Homo sapiens: one gene and its partners. The main gene of each other region encodes a partner of the protein of the gene in region 2 in a complex. Each region holds a gene or a part of one and is shown on either strand. Other genes may lie near its edges. A codon is read from its position in the direction of its gene.

Region 1 (7,240 bases), on a different chromosome or scaffold from region 2:
TCAGGAGGCAAGCTTGTATTCCTAGCTACTTAGGAGGATAGTTTGAGCCCAGGAAGTCAAGGCTGCAGTGAGCATGATCCTGCCATTGCACTCCAGCCAGAGCAAAAAAGAGAGCGAAACCCCATCTCAAAAAAAAGGGAAGATTTAGCTATGTTGGACTTACCTGTCCTCATGGAGCTGAATAATGGCCACCCCTCCAGGTAGGGCCTGAACTCTACCTTTGCCAGAGTCCCCTCCACTCCCTGTTGGTCTTAGACAATGAAACTGAGTGTTAGTAGCTATTTACCACCAAGCTCATGCTTGTTGTTCTTATAATAAAGATAAATGGTTTAATAAATGGTATGATAAAGAAAATTATATTATGGTATTATACCATTTAATAAATGGTATAATAAAGAAAATGGTTTTTTGCACCCACATTTCCATTAAAAAGTGAGAAAATTAAAGATACCTGAGGATGGCAGAGTGTTTGATGAAAGATAGGGAAATGTTGGCCAGGCACCGTGGCTCACACCTGTAATCCCAGCAGTTTAGGAGGCCGGGGCAGGCGGATCACAAGGTCAGGAGTTCAAGATCAGCCTGGCCAACATAGTGAAACCCCGTCTCTACTAAAAATACAAAAAATTAGCCGGGAGTGGTGGCAGGTGCCTACAATCCCAGCTACTCGGAAGGCTGAATGGCGCGATCTCAGCTCATTGCAACCTCTGCCTCCCAGGTTCAAGCCATTCTTCTGCCTTAGCCTCCCTAGTAGCTGGGATTACAGGCGCCTGCCACCATGCCTAGCTAATTTTTATATTTTTAGTAGACGTGGGGTTTCGCCATGTTGGCCAGGCTGGTCTCAAACTCCTGACCTTGGGTGATCTGCCCGCCTCGGTCTCCCAAACTGCTGGGATTACAGGAGTGAGCCACAGTGCCCGGCCTCTAATTTTTATTTTTAATTTTTTTAATTTTTATTTTTTTAATTTTTATTTTATTTATTTTTTGTAATTTTTAAAATATACAAAAAAAGGGCCGGGTGTGGTGGCTCACGCCTGTAATCCCAGCACTTTTTGGGAGGCTGAGGTGGGTGGATCACGAGGTCAGGAGATCGAGACCATCCTGGCTAACATGGTGAAACCCTGTCTCTACTAAAAATATAAAAAAATTAGCCGGGCCTGGTGGCAGGTGCCTGTAGTCCCAGCTACTCGGGAGGCTGAGACAGGAGAATGGCGTGAACTCGAGAGGTGGAGCTTGCAGTGAGCCAAGATCGCACCACTACACTCCAGCCTGGGCGACAGAGTGAGACTTCATCTCAAAAAAAAAAAAAATTATATATATATATATACATATATATATGCAAACAAAGAGCATCTGAGTCATAATAATGTAAATCTATCACCTGACTGACCTGCTGCCACACCTCATGATCTCATCTGATCCCCACACTCCTTCTCTTTGGGATACTGTGTACAGCCATAGCGTGGGTGAACTTTGTATTCCTATCCTCCCCATTTTTGTTATTTTATTTTATTTCTTATTTATTTGAGACAGAGTCTCACTCTGTCATCCAGACTGTAATGCAGTGGCCTGATCTCGGCTCACTGCAACCTCCACCTCCCGGTTTCAAGCGAATCTCCTGCCTCAGCCTCCTAAGTAGCTGGGACCTACAGGCACACACCACCACGCCCAGCTAATTTTTGCATTTTTAATAGAGACGGGGTTTCACCGTGCTGGGCAGGCTGGTCTCGAACTCCTGACCTCAGGTGATTTGCCCACCTCAGCCTTCCAAATTGTTAGGATTACAGGCATGAGTCACTGTGCCCGGCCTCCTCCCCATTTTATAACAAGGGAAATGGAGGCCCAGAATGGTTAAGTAAACCCACCCAGGGCTAGCTGAGAATTAGCAACAGAGAACTGGGAGTAGAATTTGTTCCCTGGCCCTTTGCTGTTTCTATTATAAGCCACCCAGTCTTAGATTTTCTGTTACCTTATAATTAATGACTCAAATGCAGTTTCTGAGTGAGAAACACAAGTCCCAAACACTCTTTAAAGAGGCATAAAGATGTATCTTGTTGTTTTCTTTTGTTTGAGACAAGGCCTGGCTCTATTGCCCAGGCTGGAGTGTGGTGACATGATCTTGGCTCACTGCAACATCTGTCTCCTGGGCTCAAGCCATCATCCCACCTCAGCCTCCTGAGTAGCTGGAACTACAGGAGCGCGCCCCCACACCTGGGTAATTTTTCTATTTTTTGTAGAGATGGGGTTTTGCCATGTTGCCCAGGCTGGTCTCGAACTCCTGAGCTCAAGTGATCCACCCATCTTGGCCTCCCAAAGTGCTGGGATTACAGGCGTGAGCCACTGTGCCCAGCCTCTTGTTGACTGTAGGACCACAAGTTGGCGGCTAACTTAGAGCAATGTTTGGCACACAGGAAGCACTCATTAAATATTGACATTATTGTAGTTATTTTAATAGCCCAGCATTGCACTTTTAGGTCTTTCAGCTTTCAGTGATGATCAGTTGATAATTGATGATCTGGTGGAGTGGTTCTTAATGGTAGAGTTGGGGGCAATTTTACACTCCCTTACACCCCACTAATCTTCCCCCCAACCCAATGGTAAAGCTATTGCACAGTACTTGGCAATGTCTAGAGACAATTTTGGTTGTCACAGCCTGGGGGGAAGGTGCTACTGGCATCTAGTGGGTAGAGGCTAAGGATGCTGCTTAATTTTTTTTTTTTTTGAGACAAGAGTTTCACTCTAGTTGCCCAGGCACAGAACAGCTTCACAGAAGCTGTTAATGCACAGAATAGCTTCCTACAAAAAAGCATTACCTGGCCCAAAATGTCATTAGCTACCAGGCTGAGAAACCTGCCCTCCTAGGCCGGGCGCTGTGGCTCACGCCCGTAATCTCAGCATATTGGGAGGCCGAGGTGGGCGGATCCTGAGGTCAGGAGTTCGAGACCACCTGGACCAACACGGAGAAACCCAGTCTCTACCAAAAATACAAAATTAGCCGGGCATGGTGGCACATGCTTGTAATCCCAGCTACTCGGGAGGCTGAGGCAGGAGAACCGCTTGAACACAGAGGCAGAGATTGTGGTGAGCCGAGATCACACCATTGCACTCCAGCCTGGGCAACTAGAGCGAAACTCTTGTCTCAAAAAAAAAAAAAAAAAAAAAAACAGGGAAAGAAAAGAAAGGAAACCTGCCCTCCTATCATAGGATAATCCCATTTCCTCCTGTCTAAAGAGACGCCTACTTAGTCATCCTGGGTGACTGCATCAGGGAGGTAGATTTTGGAGTCTGAAAGGCTGGGTTCTGTCACTTTGTTACAGTGCCTCTGGTGCAAAGAAAGCATTTTAAAAACCCTGTACAATTAAAAAATTGAATTTAATTACTTTGTGTAACTTTGAATAATTCACAGAAGTCTGAACTTCTTTATCCTGTCCTGTAAAATGGAGGTAAAAAGCCCTTGGCCGAGAGCTGTTTTGAGGAAAAACTGAAATAACATTGGTAAAGTGTCGCACAGTACTTGGCACACAGCAGCCCCTCGACAAACATTAGCTTTCTTTCCCTTTCTTGTCGGTTTCTTCCTCTCCAAACCCGCGTGTTGCTTTTCTTTTTAATTATTTTTCTGTAGCCCTCCTTTGCGGCCACAAACTCGCTTTCTAACCCAGGTTCAGCCCTTTTATTGGCTGAGTGACCTTGTGCAAGTCACTTTTCCCCTGTAGGCCTCGGTTTATTCTCCGTAAAATCAGAAAGTTGGCCTCCGATCTCCAAGCACGCTTTTCACGACGAAGTGGGACTGTTAAGTTTACAGAGCTGCTTTCCTCCCCCGGGACTGATGGTACGGTCCCCGGGCGGCTCCCCACCCATCTGTCGCAGACCTTGGTACAGGCCCAGGGGGCCCTCGGCGGCCTCTCCGGGCTGCCCTTGCCCCCTGCCGAGTTCCGGGCCCGTGTCTGCGCAAGCTGATTGGCTGGAGCGGTGCCCGGGCTGCGCGGCTATAGGTGAGCCCAGGAGGGGACGGGCGGGGCGGGCCGGAGGCCCGCCCCCTCCCCCCTGGGTCGGACGCTGAGCGGAGCCGCGGGCGGGAGGGCGGACGGACCGACTGACGGTAGGGACGGGAGGCGAGCAAGATGGCGCAGACGCAGGGCACCCGGAGGAAAGTCTGTTACTACTACGACGGTGAGCACCGTCCTCGCGGCGGGGGCGGGGCCAGGCCGGGCCGGACCGGGAACCTGGAGGCTGAGGCTGGAGCGCCGATGGGAGGCTGCGGGAGGCTGAGGCGCTGGGGAGAGGCTCGGAGAGGAGGCTGCGAGGGGGAAGTCGAGGCTGAGGGAGGAGGCTGCGAGGAAGGGAGATCGAGGCTGAGACCAAGAGGGGATCGCGTGGGGGAAGCGTGAGGTAATCTTGATGGGAAGATTCTGAGGAAGTCTGATGTGGAGAGTTTGAGTGGGACTCCTAGAGGGGAGGGTGCGTCGGAGCGGGGAGGCTGAATCTGATGGAGACGGCTGCAAGGATACATTTTCTTGCCGAGAACCCAAAGCTCTTCCCTGCCCCGTCCCTTCCTCATCTTTTCTGGGGGAAGAGTCCTGCACGACTGGTTGCCCGCCTCCCCTCCCCCAGCCTCTGAGCGGGGCCTGCGGTTGCTACTGCGACGTGGGGCGCCAGGGGTTGCAAGGAGAAGGATGCAACCTGTTAAAACAGACTTCTCACTTAATCTCTCAAGCAGGTTACTGTGTTCGAGGAAGTGTTGAGGGGCTGGGGCCGTGGGGTTGATCGGGTCACCCTTCCCAGTGACCGAAGTTCTCTCCGTGTCAGAGCTCAGAGTGTTAGGGGAGCACAGAGAAGAGGCACCGAACTCCACCTGAGGAGTCAGCGAAGGAGGGGACATCTTAGTTAGGACCTGAAGAACAGGAGTTCTTAGCCAGGCACAGGGAAGGCAAAGATAACAGCAAGTTTCAGAGGCAAGAGAGAGGACAGGACCTTTGAAAAACAGGCATTTGGCCGGGCGTGGTGGCTCACGCCTGTAATCCCAGCACTTTGGGAGGCCGAGGCTGGTGGATCACCTGAGGTCAGGAGTTCGAGACCAGCCTGGCCAACATGGTGAAACCCCGTCTCTACTAAAAATACAAAATTAGCCGCGCATGGTGGTGTGCGCCTGTAATCCCAGCTACTCTGGAGCCTAAGGCAGGAGAATCCCTTAGAACCCGGGAGGCAGAGGTTGCAGTGAGCTGAGATCGTGCCACTGCACTCCAGCTTGGACAACAGAGCGAGGCTCTGTCTTAAAAAAAAAAAAAAAAAAAGATGTAAATAGGGACCGGACCATGAAGGGCTGGGCATGCTGTCCCAAGGAAGTTGGACTTTATTGAGGGCACTTGTGAGTGATTCAAGTTTTATGCAGGTTATTGACATCATCAGGTTTATACCTTAGAAATTAAAGTAATGGGGGCCAGGTGCAGTGGCTCACACCTCTCTAATCCCAGTACTTTGGGAGGCTGAGGCAGGCAGATCACTCGGGGCCAGGAGTTCAGGACCAGCCTGGCCAACACGGTGAAACCCCATCTCTACTAAAAATACAAAATTTAGGCTGGGCACGGTGGCTCACGCCTGTAATCCCGGCACTTTGGGAGGCTGAGGCGGGCGGATCATGAGGTCAGGAGTTCAAGACCAGCCTGACCAACATGGTGAAACCCTGTCTCTACTAAAAATACAAAAATTACCCGGGTGTGGTGGTGCGCACCTGTAATCCCAGCTACTCAGGAGGCTGAGGCAGGAGAGTCGCTTGAACCCAGGAGGCAGAGGTTGCAGTGAGCCAAGATTGCACCGCTGCACTCCAGCCTGGGCAACAGGGTGAGACTCCATCTCAAAAAAAAAAAAAAAAATTAGCGAGGTGTGGTGGCACATGCCTGTAGTCCCAGCTACTCAGGAGGCTGAGGTGCGAGAGTTGTTTGAACCTGGGAGGCAGAGGTTGCAGTGGGCTGAGATCTCACCACTGCACTCCGTCCTGGGCAACAGAGCGAGACTTCGTCTCAAAAAAAAAAAAAACAAAAAAATTCAGATTGTAGGGGTAAGGAAGAAGGCATGGATCCCAAGTTCCTGGTGTGGGCAGTATTTTTTATTTTTTGAGATGATGTCTAGCTCTGTCACCCAGGCTGGAGTGCAGTGGCTTGATCTCGGCTCACTGCAACTGCAACCTCCACCTCCCAGATTCAAGGGATTCTCCTGCCTCAGCCTCCTGAGTAGCTGGGATTACAGGCGTGCGCCACCATGCCTGGCTAGTTTTTGTATTTTTATTAGAGATGGGGTTTCACGATGTTGGCCAGGCTGGTCTCAAACTGACCTCCAGTGCTCCATCTGCCTCAGCCTCCCAAAGTGCTGGGATTATAGGCATGAGCCACACTTCCTGGCCTCTGATGTGGGCAATTTGATGGTGAGTGTTTGGAGGTTTGGAGAATGCCATGTCAGTTGATAACTTTTTTTTTTTTTTTTTTTTGAGATGGAGTCTCGCTCTGTCGCCCAGGCTGGAGTGCAGTGGCGCAATCTCGGCTCACTGCTGCAAGCTCCACCTCCCGGGTCCATGCCATTCTCCTGCCTCAGCCTCTCCAGTAGCTGGGACTACAGGCGCCCGCCACCACACTGGGCTGATTTTTTGTATTTTTAGTAGAGACAGGGTTTCACCGTGTTAGCCAGGATGGTCTGGATCTCCTGACCTCATGATCCGCCCGCCTCGGCCTCCCAAAGTGCTGGGATTACAGGTGTGAGCCACCGCACCCGGCCCCAACTTTTTTTTTTTTTTTTTAAACTTCTAGAGATGGGGTCTCAATATGTTGCCTGGGCTTGTCTTGAACTCCTGTGCCTGGCCTCAAGCAATCCTGCCACCTTGGCCTCCCAAAGTGCTGGGATTACAGGCCTAAGCCACTGTTTTTTTTGTTGTTGTTGTTTGTTTGTTTAGAAATAACTATTGATAACTGTTAAGATGTTTAGGGGACATCCAAGTAGAGGCATCCAGTAGGCAGTTTAGAAGATAGAAATTTTTTGGTAGTCATCAGTATCTTAGTCTGCTATAACAGAACACTGTTTATAAAGAACAGAAATTGCTGAATGTGGTGGCTCACGCCTATAATCCCAGTACTTTGGTAGGCTGGGGCGGATGGTTCTCTTGAGCCCAGGAGTTTGAGACCAGCCTGGGCAACTTAGGGAGACTCTGTCTCTACAAAAAGTAAAAAAATTAGCTGGGCATGATGGCATGTGCCTG
Region 2 (7,491 bases):
GATCATTACAATAATGGATAACACTGGCCAGGTGTGGTGGCTCACACCTGTAATCCCAGCACTTTTGAGAAGCTGAGGCGGGCAGATGACTTGAGCCCAGGAATTCGAGACCAGTTTGGGCAACATGGAGAAACCCCGTCTCTACAAAAAATACAAAAATTTGCTGGGCATGTTGGTGCATGCCTGTAGTCCCAGCTACTCGGAGGGCTGAGAGGTGGGAGGATTACTTGAGCCTGGGCGGTCAAGACTGCAGTGAGCCATGATCGCACCACTGCACTCCATCCTAGGTGACAAGAGTGAGACCCTGACACACACACACACACACAGCATCAATTGAGCCTTTACAATACAGCAGGCTTCATACATCATTTATTTATTTAGAGACAGGGTCTCACTCTGTTGCCCAGGCTGGAGAGCAGTGGCGTGATCTCGGCTCACTGCAACCTCCGCCTTCTAGGCTCAAGCGATCCTCCCACCTCAGCCTCTTGAGCAGCCAGGACCACAGGAATGCACCACCATGCCCCGTTAATTTTTCTATTTTTTTGTAGAGAAGAGGTTTCACCATGTTGCCTAGGCTGTTCTCGAACTCCTGGACTCAAGCACTCCTCCTGTCTTGGCTTCCCAAAGTGCTGGGATTACAGGCGTGAGCCTACACATACATTATTTAATGCCAGCCACAAATCTATTAAAGTGCTATTATTATTGCCATTTTAAGATGAGAAAACTGAGTTACAGTCAAACCAAGTAACTTGCCCCAGGTTACAAAAATGAAGCTAGGATCTGAATCCAGGGCCCATGCTCTTAAACCACCACAATCCACAGACCGTATTTCTTGCCATTCCCAGGGATCCCCTGGGTTCTCTGCAAGTCCCTCCCTGAGGCTGCTGTCCCAGTTCCAAGGCTCCTACCTCAACATAGCCAGATAGAGGAAAGTCTTTCCGGAAAGGATGTCCCTCGAAGCCATAATCTGTCAGGATCCTTCTTAGATCAGGGTGGTTAGCAAAGAAGACTCCAAACATGTCCCAGATCTAGGAAAGAGACCACCTCAAACAGCCAATCCATCAAGACTAACAACAGGGGGAAGGGGCTACACTGCATCCCGTAGTCTGAACCAGTTCTGCAACTGTGGCCCAGAGGCAGGTCCACCATATCCGGTAACTCACCTCCCTTTCATACCAGTTGGCTGCCTTGAACACAGAGACAGCAGACTCAATGGGCGTCAGCTCATCTGTGTAGGTCTTCACACGGATCCGTGAGTTGAAGCGCAGAGACAACAGGTTGTAGACAATCTAGGGAGAACAGAAGGATCTGGAGGGCTGAGATGGGAGTCCCTGATTGGGAGAGTTCTGCCCTGTGACCCTGCCTTCTATTCTGAACCTCAAAACCTCAAGATTCTCCTATGCTTACAACTACTTCCAAAGGCCCAGGCCACAGCTGTAGCTTAGCATGTCAGCATGCCTGTGTTTGCTCATGCTATTCACTTTGTCAGGAATATTTCCCTGGTCCATCTCACAAGGCTACCTGGTCTCCTACTCATATTTTAGATTCAGCACAAACATTCTCTCTTTTCAAAGAAGCCTCCCAGACAGGGCCAAGTGCCCCTCCTGCTTTCTTAAAGCATCCCTCTAATATCCTTTGTATTATATGTTACTACAGTAAGCTGTTTAGGTGTCTTTCTCCTTCACTAGAGTGTAGGGGACTCCTGGAGGACAAATACTTCATGTTATTTCTCTCTCCATCCCAGAGTCTGGCAAACAGTAGATAATCAGTAAAATATTAATAGCTAAATGTATTGAAAACACTGTGTGCAAGCAATTTACTTGAACTATCTCATTGGATCCTTATAACCATTCTATAAGATAAGGACAGCTTTATATTTATTTTCCCGGTAAGAAAATGAAAGCTCAGAAAGATTAAACAAGGGCCGGGCATGGTGGCTCATGCCTGTAATCCCAGCACTTTGGGAGGCCAAGGCAGGCAGATCACGAGGTCAGGAAATTGAGACCATCCTGGCCAACATGGTGAAACCCAGTCTTCACTAAAAAAATACAAAAAATTAGCCGGGCGTGGTGGCATGCACCTGTAGTCCCAGCTACTCAAGGGGCTGAGGCAGGGGAATCGCTTGAACCTGGGAGACGGAGGTTGCAGTGAGCCAAGATCATGCCACTGCACTCCAGCCTGGCGACAGAGCAAGATTCCGTCTAAAAAAAAAAAAAATTAAACAAAATATTTGAGTTATCTGAGGTCCCACAGCCATTTAGTGGCAGAACCAAGATCCAACTTCAGATCTACTTGACTCTGAAGTTCCAGTTTAACTGCTGTGTTCTATTGTATGTTACAAACTGAAATTAATATCCTTACCCCCAAAACCTTCTCAGATCTCCCAACTGACCTCAAAACGGTTTTGCCGAGTTGGGACGTCCACTGCTGTCAAGTCAACCAGAGATTTGAACTGTGCATTGGTGTGATCCCTGAGGAAAGTCAGCACTGGGATGACGCCATCAGGATGGATACAGACCTCTAACTCATTGAAGCAGGACACCTGCACACATGAAAGTGAGGGGAGAGGGAACAAAGAGCTACTGAGGGAACAGCTAACTTCAGCTGGAGTCACCTGGTTTAATGCTGAGAGAAAAGTCCAAGCTTGGGATGGAGGAATCTGTAGTTTCTTTGAAACAAGTCTGCCCACTCCCACATGCCCTGCGAACATGGTTCTTTCTTGACCCAGACCCAAATAACATTAGTAAGTATTACCTGAACTTGTTGGACATACTTGGGCAAGATTTCAGCCACATACTCTCCAAAAGCTGAGAGCTGCTTGTGGGCCACATCATTCCGTGGTCTGACAGTGGCTGGAAGGAAAAGGCATATTTAAAAAAGAAATGGAGAAGGCAAAAGCCAGCCCTGCATGCAGTCTCTTAGGCTTGTAAGGGATGTCAAATCCAGGAAAGGCTCCCTGAAGCACCTTGAGAAAGGTGCATGTGAAAGGTTTCCCTTCTAGGGAATACAGTGATGAAAACTTGGGGAAAGTGCCACCTTAACTACACGGTCCTCAGAAAGACTCTTACTATAGCAGCTGGGGTGTTCACCTCTTCTCAAAATTACTCCACAGTTCTTCCCTCACATTGCCTGCATTTCTGCTAAAGCAGTAGTCTCAGTTCTCCTGTCAGACTAAGAGCTGTTTGAGGATGGGAACTGAACTTTTGCCTCTCTGTAGCTCCTTAGCACGCAAGTTTATACCAGGTTCTCAAGCTAAGAACTTCAGGGCTTGAAGATCCCTCACAGACTCTCTCTCTCCTTAAAAGTGTGTGTGTGTGTGTGTGTCAATGAGAAAACTGAGGCCCAGGTGTGTGTGTGTGTGTGTGTGTGTGTGTGTGTGTGTGTGTGTGTGTCAATGAGAAAACCCAGGAAAGGAGAAATGCCAGGTCTCCTAACTCCCAGTCCGTGTATCTTGACTGTAACATAATATGTACATACTCATTCATGCAACCCTAAACCACTGAGCAATCACACATCACAAGCTACAGAATAATGGTTAGGTGTTTCTGCCTCTGGCAGCAGGCAGGCCTACTTTGTCATTCACTAGGTCTTTGACCCTGGGCAGTTTAATTCTTTGGACTGTTTCCTGATCTATAGTAAGAAGAGTAAGATGCTATCTACCCCATAAGGCTGTTGTGAGGACGAAATAAGATCATTCACTAAAACGCTTAGCGAGGTTCCAGGCACACATTAAGCACTCAATTAACGCTAGGTACTATTATTACAGGGCTCTGAGGCCTAAAGGTTATATTGCTTGCTTTCAAAGAGCTGACAGTTTAATCAGACAAAAAGGGGATGATTGAAATGGACAAGGAACAATCAGGGCCATAACAGGCCTAAGGGCACAGGGAGGGCTCGATTCTGCATGCAGGGTGAAGACCACTGCAAGTCAGATCTCCAAGATTTGCCAGGAGGACGTAGGGAAGGGCATCCTAGGGCAAGGACAGGCATCTAAGGGGCCCCGCCGATAGTTCAGAGAAGAGCGCTGCCCGCACATACTCACGGCGCGTGTCGGCCCCGGCGCTCTCCCGCCTCACCGGCAGCAACAGAACGGAGGGTCGCCCAGTCCCTGCACAGGGAGATAAAAGGCACAGACGCGCGGGATGAGCCCTGAGGAGCTCTCTGCACTGGGCACGCCGCTGCGCCTGACCCCGGTCTCAGCTGGCTGCCCGTGCTCACCCCTGGTCAGCGCCGAGGCCCCCAAGATCCCGCGCCACCACAGCCTGGCTACCGCCGCCGCCGCCATGTTACTCAGATGCAGACTAGGCAGCGGACGGAAAGACAGCAGGACACGGAGCCCCAAGGGCACGGACCGGAAACGGAAGTGTGCAGCAGATCTTCTTCCGGGCGGACGTGGAGCCGGAAGCGGAGGTTCCGGGCTCCGGGATGAAAGGAGGGAACGCAGGTGAGAAAGCGAGACAGGCAGGTAGGGAAATCGTGAGGTGAGCGTGGTCCTAGCTCCTTGTGGCAGAGCCTAGAGAGAAGGCGAGGACGCTGAAGAACCAGGCGGGTGAGAGGAGGGGAGGGGGCGGGCGTTTTGGGTTCTACGCTACACACCCCTCCCCCGCTCTCTGAGCCAAGCTTTTGACGAGGGCGGGCGGGCCTGAGCGGGAAGAACGGTTTCCCTGGCGACCGTTTCCAAGACGACTCAAGGTGGAGCGGGGACATTGCACAGGGTGATGGGCCTCCCAGTGCCCCGGCCTGGGGGCGGATGGACTCAAGTTCTGGGACGCAGCCATAGGGAGTCTTTCGAGCGAGCGGGGAAGTGTGGGGGAAGCAGCTCAGAAGAGAGCAAATGTAAGACCCACGGATATCCCAGGCTAGGCTTCATATGGAGCGTCTTAACTCCATGCGCTGGGAAGGAGAGGACCTGGCCACTAGGCCGGGGCCAGGGGTCCTTTTTGTCTGATTCTACTGCCCCTGAGCTTCACTAGTTTTATGCCCCAGTTATTTGGTTAGTAAGGCTTTTACGATCACAGGCCTCTCCCAGCCCTTTGCTTTCATATATTGACCTAAATCCCAAGTCTTTTGTTAACATTATGGAAAGGAATTATTCCGTGTTTTCTCAGGAAAACACCCAGAGTTGGAACTTTTATTTATATCATTAGCGGAGGGGCGCCACTGGGGATAACGAACCCAGATTTGGTTAAAGGATAGCGTCAGGGACATCATGGACAGGGCCAGGACTAAGGCCAATCTGGACCCACTTTGCTCTCACTTCTTCCTTTTCCCTCCCTGAGTTGGACAGTTGGATTCACAGACTATGGCTGTGAATTCCTCAGGTTACTCAAGATGGTGTTGCTTTGCAGACAGCTGGCAGAGAGAGAAGTTGGCTAGCATGGAATCACCAGAGGAGCCTGGAGCATCCATGGATGAGAACTACTTTGTGAACTACACTTTCAAAGATCGGTCACATTCAGGCCGTGTGGCTCAAGGCATCATGAAACTGTGTCTAGAGGAGGAGCTCTTTGCTGATGTCACCATTTCGGTGGAAGGCCGGGAGTTTCAGCTCCATCGGCTGGTCCTCTCAGCTCAGAGCTGCTTCTTCCGATCCATGTTCACTTCCAACCTGAAGGAGGCCCACAACCGGGTGATTGTGCTGCAGGATGTCAGCGAGTCTGTTTTCCAGCTCCTGGTTGATTATATCTACCATGGGACTGTGAAACTTCGAGCTGAGGAGTTGCAGGAAATTTATGAGGTGTCAGACATGTATCAGCTGACATCTCTCTTTGAGGAATGCTCTCGGTTTTTGGCCCGCACAGTGCAAGTGGGAAACTGCCTTCAGGTGATGTGGCTGGCAGATCGGCACAGTGATCCTGAGCTCTATACGGCTGCCAAGCACTGTGCCAAGACCCACCTGGCCCAGCTGCAGAATACAGAGGAATTTCTCCACTTGCCCCACCGCTTACTCACAGATATCATCTCGGGTAAGTTTAGGGAGGGGACACACCATACCCAGTTACTTGGCTATGATGTTCAGTGAATGTTCTAGTTTAGGAGAAAAGAACCCTCAAGCTTCCTGGTGTTAGTTTACATTATTATTCCTGCATTCTTACTGAGATAACCTGCTGAGAAAGATTGAGGTGAGATTCAGTGTAATTGCTGTCAGAGACACAGTGCGTTAGAGGAAGAAGTCAGGAAAATTAAAGCACAACATTTAACCACACAGAGTAGTGAGGAGTGATTTGTATTATACTCTAATTTATCCTGTACTTCGTATGTCCCAGTGGGTCTAATTACCTATGTAAATTGGTGATGGGGCAAGATATCTAAGACTAAAAACTTTTTTAGTGATGGGCCAACGTTAGGAAACAATCCTAACCTTGCAAGTGAGATATAGCCATACTTAAGGTGTGAGGTTGGCCAGGCATGGTGGCTCACACCTGTAATCCCAACACTTTGGGAGGCCGAGGTGGGTGGATCACCTGAGGTCAGGAGTTCAAGACCACCCTGGCCAACATGGCGAAATCCCGTCTCCACAAAAAATACAAAAATTAGCTGGGCATGGTGGCTTGCACCTGTAGTCTCAGCTACTTGGGAAGGCTGAGGCAGGAGAATCACTTGAACCCGGAGGCAGAGGTTGCAGTGAGCCAAGATCACGCCACCGCACTCCAGCCTGGGCGACAGAGCAAGATTCCATCTCAAAAAAAAAAAAAAAAATGGTGTGAGCTCTGTAGCTTAGTAGGTTGCTTCCATGGCAGATGGGAAAATATCGAGTCATCCATTTTGATTTTAAAAAAGCAAGGCACATACTCTGGTTTCTCTTCAGATTGTATAAATCTTTTACCTTTTACTAAAGATTTCCATGGAGAGGAACGGTTATGAGTCTTTACCCAACTTTTTGAGGGCTCATGTAACACATGAGACTATCTTTAAAAAAGAGCAAGGTACGGGCCAGGCGCAGTGGCTCACGCCTGTAATCCCAGCACTTTGGGAGGCCGAGGCGGGCAGATCACGAGGTCAGATCAAGGCCATCCTGGCTAACATGGTGAAAGTACAAAAAATTACCTGGGCATGGTGGCAGGCGCCTGTAGACCCAGCTACTCGGGAGGCTGAGGCAGGAGAATGGCGTGAACCCGGGAGGTGGAGCTTGCAGTGAGCCGAGATCACGCCACTGCACTCCAGCCTGGGCAACAGTGCAAGACTCCATCTCAAAAAAAAAAAAAAAAAAAAAAAAAAGCAAGACCCGCCAGGCATGGTGGCTCATGCCTGTAATCCCAGCACTTTGGGAGGCCAAGGAGGGAGGATCCCTTGATGGCAGGAGTTTGAGACCAGCCTGGACAACAGTGAGACCTTGTCTATACAGAAAATAAGAAAATTAGCCAGGCGTGGTGGTGCACACCTGTAGTCCCAGCTACTTGGGAGGCTGAAACAGGATTGCTTGAGCCCAGGAGGTTGAGGCTATGGTGATGGTGATTGCGCCATTGCACTTCTGCCTGAGCGACAGGGTGA
Region 3 (7,341 bases), on a different chromosome or scaffold from region 2:
AATTGCTTGAACCTGGGAGGCAGAGGTGGCAGTGAGCCGAGATCACACCACTGCACTACAACCTGGGCGACACAGCAAGACTCAAAGTCTCAAAAAAAAAAAAAAGTCTATCTGATCTAATTTTTGCTGGTCATTGTTTACAAAGGAAAGAAGCGTTAAGGAGTGAGGATTTTGTATGTTAGGCCCAAACATAATAAAAAGGAAATCATTGCCAACATCTAAATAAATAATTAATTGCACTAAAGAAATTTCATTTAAATCTCCACATATTTTATTACATGTAGTGGTCAGCACATAGTGATCTGATTATAGTCTTTGATGAACTGATTTCCTGTCCTTACAGTAGAAGGGACAAGAATGTTGATCACACCAGGAACAGTTGAGGTTACTTTTTCATCCGGGAACTAAAATGATTTGTTACTGAGGCCAGAAATGGAGGAAAGAAACTTTAAGTTTCTAGAAATGGAATTATAGGAACTTATTTTTCAGATCACTCACCTGCCTTTACAACTTTGTCTTGAGTCACTCCTGCTCACTCTGTTAGTTTACCTGGATGCTTTTTTTTTTTTTTAACTGACCACGGTGGCCAAAGCAGCCATGGCCCCGGCCAGTTTTCCATTTTTTTTCCTTATTCTGAGATGGAGTCGCCCAGGTTGGAGTGCAGTGGCGTGATCTCAGCTCACTGCAACCTCCGCCTCCCGAGTTCAAGTGATTCTCCTGCCTCAGCCTCCTCAATAGCTGGGATTACAGGCACCTGCCACCACACCCAGCTAATTTTTGTATTTTTAGTAGAGACACAGTTTTACCGTGTTGGCCAGGCTGGCCTCGAACTCCTGACCTCGGGTGATCCGCGTGCCTCTGCCTCCCAAAGTGTTGGGATTACAAGCATAAGCCACCATGCCCGGCCTGCTTTTCCATTCTTAAGTGTCCATGCTCTATTTTAGAGCCCTTAAATAGCCTAGTCTTTTTTGCCTAGAATATTCTTCACCTCTTCTCTTCCTTGGTTTTGTCTAACCCAGCACTGTCCAATCTGAATGTAAGCCAGTACAAACACGTATATAATTTTAAATTTTCTTTTTCCTTTTTTTTTTTTTTTGTTTTTTTCAGAGACGGGATCTCGCTTTGTTGCCCAGGCTGGTCTCGAACTGGCTTCAAGTGATCCTCCCACTTTGGCCTTCCAAAATGTTGCGATTATAGGCGTGAGCCACTGTGGCTGGCCTGAAATTTTCTAGTATCCACATTCATAAAGTAAAAAGAAAATAAAAAGGTGAAATTAATGTATTTTATTTAACCTTATATAGTCAAAATAGTTTTACTTCAACATGTAATTGATGTAAAAAAAAAATGAGATATTTTACATTCTGTCTTTGTACTATCTTTGAAATTCTGTGTATTTTACACTTACAGCACATCTGGATTCAGACTAGCCACATTTCAAGTGCTCAGTAGTCACATGTGGTTAATAACTACTTTATTGTGCAATGTAAGACTAACCCATAGTTGAGCTTTAGATCTTATCTTAAACTTGCTCAGATGTTTTCAACTTGAAAAGCACGAATCAAATATTTTCTGTTGGAAAGCAGTCATGGCTTATACTGGTCATGTATTGCCCTTGGCTTCTTTGAGCTTTGACACTGTTTATCTCTTCACACTACAGCCAAGGAAGATCAGCACCTACCATAATGTTTAATATAGATGCCGTGAACCCATCACAGAAAAACATATGCAGGGTTTCAAATGTGTTTGGGTGGGGTCTTTGATTACATGCTTGCCAGTTTCTCGGCCTTGCATTTTCACAAGGAGTTATACCCAGAGAAAATTTTACTTTCTTGGGGCTCTGTTTTGAAAATAGTTAATGATTTTTAATGATTTTATATAACCCTGATTTTTTTTTCTCTATATTTAAGTCAGTGTATATGTGTCTCTGGATATGAGAGAATGTACTTCTTAAAAGGACCACAGAAGACAAAGGCGATCTATATTGTCTTCTCTTAGAGTGAAATGCTTGAGACATCATATTAGGCTTTCAGTGGGATACCTGTTTTGTTTCATAATATATTTTGAATGTCAGATGAAGTAGGATATTGAAATCCTATAACAAAAACTTATGAAAGTATTTTCTAAGTCCTATCTTTTATTTATCCAATGAATATATCCTGAGCATCCTGGTAGGCACCAGGATAAAACAATGAGTGAGATCGGGCAGGTCTTTACCTTTTTTTTTTTTTTTTTTTTAAAGACAGAGTCTCTGTCGCTCAGGCTGGAGTTCAAGTGATTCTCCTGCGTCAGCCTCCCAAGTAGCTGGGACTACAGGTGTGGGCCACCTCACCCGGCTCATTTTTTGTATTTTTATGAGAGACAGGGTTTCACCATGTTGGCCAGGCTGGTCTCAAACTCCTGACCTCAGGTGATCCATTCGCCTTGGCCTCTCAAACCGCTGGGATTACAGACATGACCCATTCAAACTCCTGGCCTCAAAAAAACCACCCCCCTTGGCCTCCCAAAGTGCCGGGATTATAGGTGTGAGCCACCATGTCCGACCTCAAGTCTTTACCTTTAAGAAACACACTCTTAGGCCAGGCGTGGTGGCTTACACCTGTAATCCCAGCACTTTGGGAGGCCAAGGCGGGCAGATCACAAGGTCCAGAGATCGAGACCATCCTGGCTAACAAGGTGAAACCCCGTCTCCACTAAAAATACAAAAAATTAGCTGGGTGCGATGGCGGGCGCCTGTAGTCCCAGCTACTTGAGAGGCTGAGGCAGGAGAATGGCGTGAACCCAGGAGGCGGAGGTTGCAGTGAGCTGAGATCGCGCCATTGCACTCCAGCCTGGGTGACAGAGTGAGACTCCATCTCAACAACAACAAAAAAAAGAAACATACTCTTAGGCGGGGCGCGGTGGCTCATGCCTGTAATCCCAGCACTTTGGGAGGCTGAGGCGGGGGGATCATGAGGTCAGGAGATCCAGACCATCCTGGCCAACACAGTGAAACCCCATCTCTACTAAAAATACAAAATTAGCCAGGCGTGGTAGCACGCACCTGTAATCCCAGCTACATGGGAGGCTGAGGCAGGAGAATCACTTGAACCTGGGAGGCAGAGGTTGCAGTGAGCCGAGATCCTGCCATTGCACTCCATCCTGGACAAAAAGAGCAAAACTCTGTCTCAAAAAAAAAGACACTCTTGGCCAGGTGAGGTGGGTCACACCTGTAAACCCAAGACTTTGGGTGGCTGAGGCGGGCAGATCGCTTGAGCCTAGGAGTTCAAGACCAGCCTGGGCAACATGGCGAAACCCTGTCTCTACAAAAAATTAGCCAGGCATGGTGGCTTATGCCTGTGGTCCCAGCTACTTGGGAGGCTGAGGTGGGAAGATCCCTTGAGCCCGGGAGGCAGAGGTGACAGTGAGTCAAGATTTTGCCACTGCACTCCAGCCTAGGTGAGAGAGTGAGACCCTATCTCAAAAAGAGAAACACTGTTTATTTTTTATTTTTATGTATTTTTTTGTTAGAGACAGGGTCTCACTCAAGTGCCCAGGCTGGAGCGCAGTGGCACAGTCATAGCTCACTGCAGCCTTGACCTGGGATCAAGCAGTCCTCCTACCTCAGCCTCTAAGTAGCTGGGACCACAGACGTGCACTACCACACCTAGCTAATTTTTTTTTTTTGGAGGCGGAGTCTCACACTGTCACCCAGCTGGAGTGCAGTGGCACGATCTCGGCTTACTGCAGTCTCCACCTTCTGGGTTCAAACAATTCTCCTGCCTCAGCTTCCCGAGTAGCTGGGATTACAGGTACCCGCCACCACACCTGGCTAATTTTTTGTATTTTTAGTAGAAATGGGGTTTCACTATGTTGGCCAGGCTGGTCTCGAGCTCCTGACCTCATGATCACCCATCTCGGCCCCCAAAGTGCTGGGATTACAGGTGTGAGCCACCGCATCTAGCTGCTAATTTTTTAATTTTTTGTAGAGATTGGGTCTTGCTGTGTTGTCCAGGCTTGTCTTGAACTCCTGGACTCAAGCAATCCTCCTGCCTTGCCCTTCCAAAACACTGAGCTTACAGGTGTGAGCCACTGCCCCTGGCCACACACTTTTATTATAGACACTGAGGAGAAGTCTGAGTGCCATAACTTAAAAAAAAAAAAAGGATTTATATGGGAAAAGAACTTAGCAAGTAAAGAAAAAAATGGATTTATCATTTTTATAAAGACAATTTTTGTTAAAGATGAAAGTAAGAATCTAGATTTAGCAACGGTTGTATTTTAATAAATCTTGTCTGACCTTAAATGAGTAATTATATACATAGCTCTAAGTAAATAAGAATGATTATGGCTGTGCCCTAGTCGGATTCTGAAGACTTCCTCTTTTAAGTCCATATTGATTCTGCATGCCCTCCTGTACCTTTGTATTTATTTTATTTTACACTGTCTCCTTCCTTGGTTGTATTAAGGAGTTGCTGAAAAATCAAATATGTGAGGTTTTATTTTCTCTATTACCTCTGGTAATCTTATTCCTGATGATGGGGAATCTTCATCATCTTAGACCCAGCCTTGGCCCAGAAGATGTTAGCATCTACCTAAAACTACAGATCCATCAGTATTTTGGTTTGGTTTGGTTTGGTTTGGTTTGGTTTGGTTTGGTTTGGTTTGGTTTGTTTGAGACAGAGTCTTGCTCTGTTGCCTCGGCTGGAGTGCAGTGGCATGATCTCGGTGCACTGCAACCTCTGCCTCCCAGGTTCAAGCTATTCTCCTGCCTCAGCCTCCTGAGCAGCTGAGACTGCAGGTATGCACCAGCATGCCCAGCTAATTTTTGTATTTTTAGTAGAAACAGGGTTTCACCATGTTGGCCAGTCTGGTCTCTTTAACTCCTGACCTCGAGTGATCCACCCGGCTCGGCCTCCCAAAGTGCTGGGATTACAGGCGTGAGCCACCACGCCCGGCCCCGTCAGTGTTTTGAAAGTGTAATCTGTCTACTCTTGAGATGAAGCCATTGCTTCCTTAACAGTTCTTTGGTGGTACAGCGTTTTTATCAAAGCTTAAAGGTCCCCAAGCTTTATAAATCACATGATAGGCTTCTGCCTTGGCAGGGGTGTGACATGAACCCGTTATGTGCCACTGTCAACCTGTTCTGGGTTGACAGTGAACAGTTCCTGCCCGTTTAAACTAACTGGACTCAACCCCTGTACTTACTCTCTGCAACAAAAGCTGGAAAACTTTTGTATTGAGCACATTTTACACTAATATTTAATCATTTTCCCTGCTATATCCCTTCTTATTTGGTACTCTAGATTGCAGTAATATCCCTCCTATACATTTTTGTTCTTTGTTAGGAATTTTGTAGTAAAGAATGAATCTGGCCGGGCTCGGTGGCTCACGCCTATAATCCCAGTACTTTGGGAGGCCAGGACGCGTGGATCGTGTGAGGCCAGAAGTGCAAGACCAGCCTGGGCAACGTGGGGAAACCCCATCTCTACTAAAAATACAAAAAATAGCCAGGCATGGTGGCGCATGCCTGTAGTCCCAGCTACTTGGGAGGCTGAGGCGGGAGAATCACTTGAACCTGGGAGACAGAGGTTGCAGTGAGCCAAGATTGCACCAGTGCCCTCCGGCCTGGGGGGACAAAGCTAGACTCTGTCTAAAAGAAAAAAAGGAATGAATCTTGGTCGGATGCAGTGGCTCACGCCTGTAATCTCAGCACCATGGGAGGCCGAGGCAGGCAGATCACTTGAGGTCAGGAGTTAAAGACCAGCCTGGCCAACATGGTGAAACCCCGTCTCTACTAAAAATACAAAAAATTAGCTTGGTATGGTAGTGCACACCTGTAATCCCTGCTACTTGGGAGGCTGAGGTGAGAGAATAGCTGGAACCCGGGAGGTGGAGGTTGCAGTGTGGAGATTGTGCCACTGCCCTTCAGCCTGGGCAACAGAGCGAGACTGTCTAAAAAAAAAAGAATGAATCTGTATTTGTCCCGTATTTCTTCTATTTATAGAAATAGTTTTTGTTTGCTTGTTCAAGTACCAAGAGCCTAATTTGCACTTGGCATAGAAAGACCAGGTCCCTGCTCTGTGGGAGCTTTGAGTTGAGGGGGAAGGAGGGAGGTCAGGTATGTAAAGAGATACTCATAATTGATGTGTTAAGAGTGCCTGAAGGAGAGGAAAATGACTCAGGGTGGAAGAGTCAGGAAAAGCTTCAGTCAAGAAGTAGGGATTTAAGCTGGGTCTTGAAGGGTGGGGAGGACTTGAGAGTGATAGGAGGAGGAGCATGTTCCAGGTATGGCAGGGACGAAGGAAAGGACTCTACCGTGAAGGGAGCCTGAAGGGTTCTTTAGGTTAGTAGTGCCATGGCCACAGTCAAAAGAAAGACCCAGATCAAATTTAAACACGATAATGTACCTTGAAACAGTTTTGATTTTCACTTTAATAATTGTGGCTCTTATTTAGCTAATTTTATAATACATAGTCTTCCTCTAAGTTAGAGGATCCAGCTTAAAGGACATCATATTTACTTTTCTCTGCCATTCTTTTAATTATAGTAGTGTATTCCAGTTTCAATAAGTTCTTAAATACACTGCATAGACCCTAGATCCCTTTTTTGTTTGTTTTTAAGATGGAGTCTCGCTCTTTCACCCAGGGTAGAGTGCAGTGGCGCGATCCCAGCTCACTGCAACCTCTGCCTGCCAGGTTCCAGCGATTCTCCTGCCTCAGCCTCTCTAGTAGCTGGGATTATAGGCATGCGCCACCCACCACACCCGGTTAATTGTTTGTATTTTTAGAAGAGACAGAGTTTCGCCATGTTGGCCAGGCTGGTCTCGAACTCCTGACCTCAGATGATCTGCCTGCCTCGACTTCCCAAAGTGCTGGGATTACAGACATGAGCCACCACGCCCGGCCGAGCCACCGTGCCTGGCCTTTTTTTTTTTTTTTTTTTTTTTGATAACAAGGTTTTGCTCTGTCACCTAGGCTGGAGTGCAGTGGTACGATCATGGTGCACTGCAGCCTCAACCGCCTGTGCTCAAGCCATTCTCCTGCCTCAGCCTCCTTAGTAGCTGGGACCACAGGCATGTGCTACCACAACTGGCTAATTTTTTTATTTCTAGAGATGAGATGTTGCTGTGTTGCCCAGCCTGGTCTTGAATTCGTGGGCTAAAGTGATCCTGCTGCCTTGGCCTCCCAAAGTGCTGGGATTACAGGTGTGAGCGACTGTGCCTGACCCAATTCTTTATTTTTATTTTATTTTATTATTTTTATTTTTATTTTTTGAGACAGAGTCTCGCTCTGTTACCCAGGCTGGAGCGCAGTGGTGCGATCTTGGCTCACTGCAAGCTCCGCCTCCCGGGTTCACACCATT
Region 4 (7,341 bases), on a different chromosome or scaffold from region 2:
TTTTTACAAATTTTGGCCTTTAAAAAAATCCCTTTCGAGTCATTTTTGTCAAGTTTTGGGATGAAGGAAAAGTAAACATCTTTGTTTAGCCAGCTATCTTTACTTGGAAGCCTGTAAGTTAACTTTTAGTATGTTTGTTTTTTCTTTAAAAATATCCAAATGGTTTTTATCTGTTAAAAGAAACTTTTCTAGTAGCAATAATAAAAATTGAGTGCTAGAATTATGTAAATCACATGTTGCAACTATTGAAGAATGCTTAATGAAAATTCCCACAGTATACAGTTACATGAAGAGAACAGATAAACTTTGTAAAATTAACTCTGAAATGGAAGGAAATATAGAAAAACGATTTTTGAATAATGTCATTTTTAGGTGGTTAGTTTTTTCATTGTCCCTTTTTAATTTTTTCCCAAATACTCTTCAGTATGCACAAATGTCTTTTGTAATTGAAGGATTTTCTTTTCTTCTTTAAAGATTGAGTTATGTGCCTAACTGGTAATATTCCGAGAAGGGAACTTACTGGAAACTTATAAATGTTTATTGAATTATGACATTTATCCACATAAAATATTTACTTTTATGTTAGGTTTACTATTAATATTAAATTTCTACACGTAGAAGTTGAAGTTTTTGAAAATTAATAGATGTTTTTAACTCTTAAGTTAGGAAAACTACTCAGTACCACTACCTAAAGTTAACTCAGGGTTAAACTATGTTGTTTAGCTTTCCATAATTATTTTACACATGTCCATAGGGAAAGAAAAGTCAATAAAAATTAATTTAGATGATACATAATGTTTTATTGTAACATGATGAATTTCACCATGTAACCCTACATGAACATCTTTCTGTGTTAATAAAATAGGTGTATATTCATATTATAATCTTAATATAGTTGTGTACTTGACTTTTCCATCAGGGACACCTGCTAAAATAGCTAGTTATATCTTAATTTTTTAATATGTATTATTGTATAACGTGTTTGGAAAGGAGTTTTAGACTTGACATTTTTTACATTTTTATTTGTTTTTAAAATATTTAGAAAACCCATTTTGGTTGAGTAACATTTGCACTTATTATCTTTTTAAAATTTATTTTTCGAACTGTTGCAGTATGCAGATTTTGTTGTTACCCAAATCTTCTTGTCTTAGGTCATGCTAAATGTGTAGAAGTTGTAAAAACTTTTAACTTACCATTACTGATGCTTGGAGGAGGTGGCTACACAATCCGTAATGTTGCTCGATGTTGGACATATGAGACTGCAGTTGCCCTTGATTGTGAGATTCCCAATGGTAAGTGTTCTCATTACAATATCTTTATTGTATGAACTGTCAATACAGATGCTCCTCTAATTATGTTGCAATTAGGTCCTGATAAACCCATCATAAGTTGAAAGTATGATAAGTAGAAAATGGATATAATACACTTAACCTACCAAACATGACTTAGCCCAGCCTACTTTAAACGTGCTCAGAACAGTTAGGTTAGGCTTCAGTTGGACAAAATAATCTAATACTGAGCCTGTTTTATAAAAATAAAACGTTGAATATTTCATGTAATGTACTGAATACAAGACATTGAAGTTGGTACAAAAAAGCCAGAAAACTGTAAGTCAAGCCATTGAAAGTCAGAGACTGTCTGTATATAGAAATAGATGGATGAATGATTAGAGTAAGTGCCATTCTTTATAAATAGGAGAACATTCACTTTGTGTTCACTTTTAAACATTTTCTTAGGAAATATTTCACCACCTAAATCTGGATTCTGTGCATGGTTTTTTGTGAAAACTGAGCTTGTAATATGTAACTTTATTTTATTGTTTTCATTAGAGTTGCCATATAATGATTACTTTGAGTATTTTGGACCAGACTTCAAACTGCATATTAGTCCTTCAAACATGACAAACCAGAACACTCCAGAATATATGGAAAAGATAAAGTAAGAAATCATTGAATTGTTTTGATAAACATTTTATCTTGACAAAGATTTAGTATGCTTTAAAGGGCCAAGTATGATGGGTCTTTTTAACTTTATTAGATATTTTGTTTTTTTCTAAAGGATTTGAAACATTAAGTTACTGATTATTCTTTTTTTTTTTTTTTAATTTTTAATTTTTTTGTCAGGATGGGATATTGCTTGGTTGCCCAGGCTGGTCTCGAACTCCTGGCTTCAAGTGATCCTGTCACCTCTGCCTCTCAGAAGTGCTGAGCTTACAGGCATGAGCCACCGTATTCAGCCATTTAATTTCTTCAGTTAATGGAAATAATTTTTTTTATTAGTTGAAATGTATTTTAAAATTGCAAGGTGCACTATAAGTTATTTTCATTGTCTGGAACATTTTGTTAAGGCTTTGTCTCCACAAGCAAAGTAGAGACATTATAGTACATAGCATGGGTTTGAGTCACCTCTGTACCACAAACAAGCTGTATGATGTTTGATAAGTTCACTTGCCTTTGTGCTTATGTTTTCTCATCATTGAAATGGCAGGCTAAAATAATGCCTCCTTGGCCAGTCAAGGTGGCTTATGCTTGTAATCCTAATGCTTTGGAAGTCCGAGGTGGGAGGATAGCTTTAGACCAGTAGTTTGTGACCAGCCTGGGCCATATAGTGAGACCTTGTCTGCAAAAAATTTAAAAATTAGCCGGGCATGGTGGCATACACTTGTAGTCCTAACGCGCAGAGGCTGAGGCAGGAGGATTGCCAGGAGTTTGAGGCTGCAGTGAGCTATGATCTTGCCACTGCACTCTAGTCTGGGCAACAAAGAGAGACCTTTTAATATATAGGTTTAGCTAGACCAAAGATGAAATTTTTTGCTAAATATTTTCTCTTGCATGTAAGAACTGCAAAGAAATTTAATTTTGTCTAATAAACTTTGCATGTGTAATTTAGACAGCGTTTGTTTGAAAATTTGCGCATGTTACCTCATGCACCTGGTGTCCAGATGCAAGCTATTCCAGAAGATGCTGTTCATGAAGACAGTGGAGATGAAGATGGAGAAGATCCAGACAAGAGAATTTCTAGTAAGATAATGCCTTTATTTTTCCAATTTGTCAAAATGATAATTGAAATGGAAGGTTTTAGTGGCCTAAGAACTTCACTATAAAGTCATGTTCACGAGCACACTGTTAATATTGTCATTTTTGCCACTTTCAGAGATTTAGCTTCCTGATGTCTCAGAACCTGATTTGGGTGTCAGCAGTTTCAGTTTGTATGGCTGGATATACATATATGATTGAAAGTTTTCAAAAATTAGCAACTTTAGTATATTTGGAAATTAATAAGACATCTCATTTATCTAAAGTAGGGTGAACTAAATAACTAAACATCTGTTTGATTTTACAACTTCTCATTACACTTAATGTGATGGTTAGATTGTAGCATAACAGTATGTGTAATGGTATAGACTGTCTAACATATTTGGTATTGGTACTTTTTTTTTGGTCTACTTCACCTCTCAGCTCTGAAATAAAATGCTACTTTTTAAGTAATGACATTATTCCCATCCCCTATTAGAAAAACACACTTTTTTCCTTTAGAGTTTCAGCATTTTTAAAGAAAAAGAGATTCCCCCAATTTTTATTATGTGTTTTTGAGCCATTTCTTCATACATGAAAGCAAAGTTTTCAATATTAAATAAACCATTCATTCCATTCAAATTTTAAAATCATTAGGCATGTTACCCTTTACGTTTAAATGTGGTAACTAACTGCTTAGTGCATTTGTATGAGTATGCTGTAATGATTATAAAACCTGTGACTGTTTTTGTCAAAATTTATTAAAATATTCTGTGCAGTTCGAGCATCAGACAAGCGGATAGCTTGTGATGAAGAATTCTCAGATTCTGAGGATGAAGGAGAAGGAGGTCGAAGAAATGTGGCTGATCATAAGAAAGGAGCAAAGAAAGCTAGAATTGAAGAAGATAAGAAAGAAACAGAGGACAAAAAAACAGGTCAGATTTGTTTCTTGGTAATTGTGTTTTAATTGTAAATTTTAAAAATTGGGCTGCATTATAATGTTTATGCTATCGAGAAGTCAGTTGCACAGGTATCAGGAGGAAGTATGCTAGGTAGGTGACTCTTTTTTCTTACATATAAGTGGTACTTAGCTCTTAAAGCTTTTATATAAATGTTATTGTTCCTATTTGCTTTAGTAATACAGGAAACCTTATTTTCTTGATAACATAGGTTTAAAATAGTGAACATTGCATTGTGATATAGATTGGTTAAGAAAGAGGACAAAGTAATTATGAATCTATTGGTAGTGCATGGTCAGAACTGAACTTCTAAGGTAATTTTTAGCTACCTAAAGCTTATTTAATGGGAGAAAACACAAAGAAGAGTTACATATCCTTAGACCAGTTTTGCCATTTTGAAAAAGGTCAAATAATGGATTTTGTTCAGAAATTGAAGAAAACATTAAAAACTCTGAGGAAAGCTAGGAGGGGATTTGGGACCTGGGTTAGGGAGGAAAAAATACTTTGATACATTGCCTTACTTTAAAACGCTGTGTTAGCTTTAGGCAATTGAATTTGCTACCGGAATCTGTTACCTTTCATCTGACTTCCCAGAACACTTACACATGCCTCTGCCATTTTATTTAACACATCATATTATAGCACCTCACAGGATTTTGTCTCCCTACTAGACTGAGCTGCTCATGGCTAGGGAACACAGTATCTTAAATATTTGTATTCTCAGCACTTGATGCATTTCCTAATGCAAGTAATGGTGATGAGCACACGTTTTAGTTAACCTGTTAATTTTGATCCTGTAGTATGTGAAAAACTGATTTAGAGATAATGATCCAATTTTTCCTATGTCTATCAAATTGAAGTTATGTGAATAAGCCAGCTTTTTTTTTTTTTTTTAAACTAGAGAGTTAGTAATCTATAACATCTGACACATTTAGTTCTGTTCTTTTACTTGTGGATTCACTCCTCAATAGGCTACATACAGAAATTTATAATTTTAACTTCCCAATGTATTACAATGATGGCTTCAGTCTATATTTGTAACTGATTGACATCCAAAAATTCAAGCCATGACTGAATTAAGGACGACTTAACTTTAGCTGTAGGATTTTCCTAACTTTTTTTCTTTTCTTTCATTTTCACTATGTTTTCTTGTCTGTCTGTTTTTGGTGTTCTCATTTTTAAAAGCTTTATCTTTTCTGTGCTTAAAAAATAAACTCTCTATTTGGTGATGAGGCTCTTTCGATAGGGCCTTGCAGTTGTTAAAATTCTTCAGCCTACTGAAAAATGAAATACTACCACAGAAAGCTTTTTTTAAATCTATAGGTCAAAACCTAGAGTTAGGGCCACCTTTTCTCCCTCTGCACCCCAATCCAGTGACTATTCATAGCTTGTACTGCCATCGTTTAGGAAACACCCAACACAAAGCTTATTTAGACCGAATTCATTAATAATAAGATTGCATAACTTTTTATATTTTAAAAATAAAGTATATTTTGAAATAATATATATACATTTTATATTTCAAAATAGGTTTTAATCTTTTCCCAATCTTTATTTTTAGACGTTAAGGAAGAAGATAAATCCAAGGACAACAGTGGTGAAAAAACAGATACCAAAGGGTAAATGATGTTCCTTATCAAGTACTTTTTACATACTATAAAAATACTAAACATGTTTATTGGTGTGTGTTTGTGTACACACTTCAGAAATACTAGACTGAACCTTAGAACATCATTATGAGGTGCTCTGAATTTTAGTTTGTATTGGTACATAAGACAACATATGCCATCTTACCTATTGGTTTATCAGTATAACTATATCAGTCAGTTTGTATTCTTGTACGTAGTTTATCTGAGACCCTTTTTTGCTGTTATCTTTTATATATGCACTTAATGGTTTTCATGGTGTTCTTATTTCTGTGTACATGATTTTTTTAGTGTTGTGAGATAGGTAAATTTAAGAAACAATTTTAAGTAAAAACAGTTGAGGATTTTAGTGTCAGAAAGCATGTAAATGTTTGGGCACACATAATTTTGTGCCAGCCTTTACAGGATAACTTGGAATAGTTTATTAAATCACTAGAAAAATTAAGGCATTAATTACTCCAGAAACACTTAAGACATTATCAATTAATGTGTTTCTTAGCATGAGCCTACAGGACCTGATCAATATAATAGGTCAGTGCATTTAAACCAAGATTGTGCCATTTTTAATATTTCACATTGCCTCTTTTAACAGAACCAAATCAGAACAGCTCAGCAACCCCTGAATTTGACAGTCTCACCAATTTCAGAAAATCATTAAAAAGAAAATATTGAAAGGAAAATGTTTTCTTTTTGAAGACTTCTGGCTTCATTTTATACTACTTTGGCATGGACTGTATTTATTTTCAAATGGCTTTTTCGTTTTTGTTTTTCTTGGCAAGTTTTATTGTGAGTTTTTCTAATTATGAAGCAAAATTTCTTTTCTCCACCATGCTTTATGTGATAGTATTTAAAATTGATGTGAGTTATTATGTCAAAAAAACTGATCTATTAAAGAAGTAATTGGCCTTTCTGAGCTGATTTTTCCATCTTTTGTAATTATCTTTATTAAAAAATTGTACTTGGATTATCTTTTGTCTGTTTATTACTACAATATGAAGTCTTGTTTCAGTGGCTAATGACATCATTTCTGTAGACTTACAATACACTCTAGGTGAAAGATAATGATTACAGCTTGAAAGATAACTATTTGCTGTTTCTTTGGGAAGAGTATTTATAGTAATTATTACTTATCTTTGCAATAGAAATTCTACCACCTTGCCCTCTATAGCTTAGCCAGTTAGTATCAGTGAAGATTAACATCCCATTACAATTTATGAAATAATACAGACTCTGCAATTGAGATGTAGGAGTTCTTTGAGTTGACCCAAAGATTCTCAAAATTGAAATGGAAATTCTGAATTGAAAGAAGAAACTGACCAGAACTTGTATTGACCAGACTTGCCTATAGTATATTGCTGGTTTAAAATGGAACCTGCAGACAAAACCTGTTTCTTTTACTGCATTTACATGGCATCCAGGTTCCATTATTATTTACGTGACATCCAGGTTTCTAACTCAAGGAAATAAACACAACTGATTTATCATTCAGCAACTACTTATTGTGTGTCTGCCCATTTTAAGACTGTAGGAGTGTAACTGAATATAATGGAAAAATGCTTTCACTCAGAGCTTACACTCAGAGCTTACATTCTAGTAGCAGGAAGCAGACAAATGGGGGTAACTCCTGCTACTAAGATGTGCAAAGAAGACAAAACATTTTAGGAACTTGCCAAAATCAGTGAAATCTCCCTTTTTGTCAGGCCCACATTGATTCTTTTGAGA

The links.
Region 1: the proteins of KBTBD4 (region 2) and HDAC1 are in contact, whole or in part, in a cryo-EM structure (PDB 8VRT), measured with the Homo sapiens proteins. Residues at the interface, in NP_060565.4 of Homo sapiens: Cys290, His291, Gln292, Arg312, Arg313, Trp326, Pro329, Leu330, Pro331, Arg332, Asp333, Arg334, Thr355, Gln357, Ser361, Ala363, Val373, Trp374, Thr375, Glu376; in NP_004955.2 of Homo sapiens: Gln26, Gly27, Pro29, Glu98, Asp99, Gly149, Phe150, His178, Lys200, Glu203, Tyr204, Phe205, Pro206, Gly207, Asp230, Gly268, Asp269, Arg270, Leu271, Gly272, Cys273, Ser348, Asn349, Met350, Thr351, Gln353.
Region 3: KBTBD4 (region 2) and RBX1 share a complex: the UniProt entries of both Homo sapiens proteins name them as parts of the BCR(KBTBD4) E3 ubiquitin ligase complex.
Region 4: the proteins of KBTBD4 (region 2) and HDAC2 are in contact, whole or in part, in a cryo-EM structure (PDB 9GGM), measured with the Homo sapiens proteins. Residues at the interface, in NP_060565.4 of Homo sapiens: Cys290, His291, Ser309, Arg312, Arg313, Trp326, Pro329, Pro331, Arg332, Asp333, Arg334, Thr355, Gln357, Ser361, Ala363, Val373, Trp374, Thr375, Glu376; in NP_001518.3 of Homo sapiens: Gln27, Gly28, His29, Pro30, Asp100, His142, Gly150, Phe151, His179, Lys201, Gly203, Glu204, Tyr205, Phe206, Gly208, Asp231, Gly269, Asp270, Arg271, Leu272, Gly273, Cys274, Tyr304 (codon at 1,220), Arg307 (codon at 1,229), Asn350 (codon at 1,895), Met351 (codon at 1,898), Thr352 (codon at 1,901), Gln354 (codon at 1,907).

The regions. Positions count from the first base shown.
Region 1 is NC_000001.11:32,288,052-32,295,291, forward strand, and holds the start of HDAC1 (histone deacetylase 1), read left to right. Parts: upstream 1-4,031; 5' UTR 4,032-4,118; coding exon 4,119-4,167; intron 4,168-7,240. UniProt on the Homo sapiens protein: Histone deacetylase that catalyzes the deacetylation of lysine residues on the N-terminal part of the core histones (H2A, H2B, H3 and H4).
Region 2 is NC_000011.10:47,575,886-47,583,376, reverse strand, and holds the start of KBTBD4 (kelch repeat and BTB domain-containing protein 4), read left to right. Parts: upstream 1-4,406; 5' UTR 4,407-4,425; coding exon 4,426-4,444; coding exon of another isoform or gene 4,445-4,465; exon of another isoform or gene 4,466-4,549; intron 4,550-4,605; exon of another isoform or gene 4,606-4,718; coding exon of another isoform or gene 4,719-4,836; intron 4,837-5,279; coding exon of another isoform or gene 5,280-5,348; coding exon 5,349-5,966; intron 5,967-7,491. Other genes in the region: NDUFS3 (NADH dehydrogenase [ubiquinone] iron-sulfur protein 3, mitochondrial precursor), read right to left, coding at 909-1,028, 1,164-1,289, 2,393-2,542, 2,755-2,852, 4,043-4,108, 4,219-4,285. UniProt on the Homo sapiens protein: Substrate-specific adapter of a BCR (BTB-CUL3-RBX1) E3 ubiquitin ligase complex which targets CoREST corepressor complex components RCOR1, KDM1A/LSD1 and HDAC2 for proteasomal degradation.
Region 3 is NC_000022.11:40,954,180-40,961,520, forward strand, and holds part of RBX1 (E3 ubiquitin-protein ligase RBX1), read left to right. Parts: intron 1-7,341. UniProt on the Homo sapiens protein: E3 ubiquitin ligase component of multiple cullin-RING-based E3 ubiquitin-protein ligase (CRLs) complexes which mediate the ubiquitination and subsequent proteasomal degradation of target proteins, including proteins involved in cell cycle progression, signal transduction, transcription and transcription-coupled nucleotide excision repair.
Region 4 is NC_000006.12:113,939,959-113,947,299, reverse strand, and holds part of HDAC2 (histone deacetylase 2), read left to right. Parts: intron 1-1,151; coding exon 1,152-1,292; intron 1,293-1,829; coding exon 1,830-1,938; intron 1,939-2,889; coding exon 2,890-3,020; intron 3,021-3,793; coding exon 3,794-3,949; intron 3,950-5,534; coding exon 5,535-5,592; intron 5,593-6,211; coding exon 6,212-6,242; 3' UTR 6,243-7,341. UniProt on the Homo sapiens protein: Histone deacetylase that catalyzes the deacetylation of lysine residues on the N-terminal part of the core histones (H2A, H2B, H3 and H4).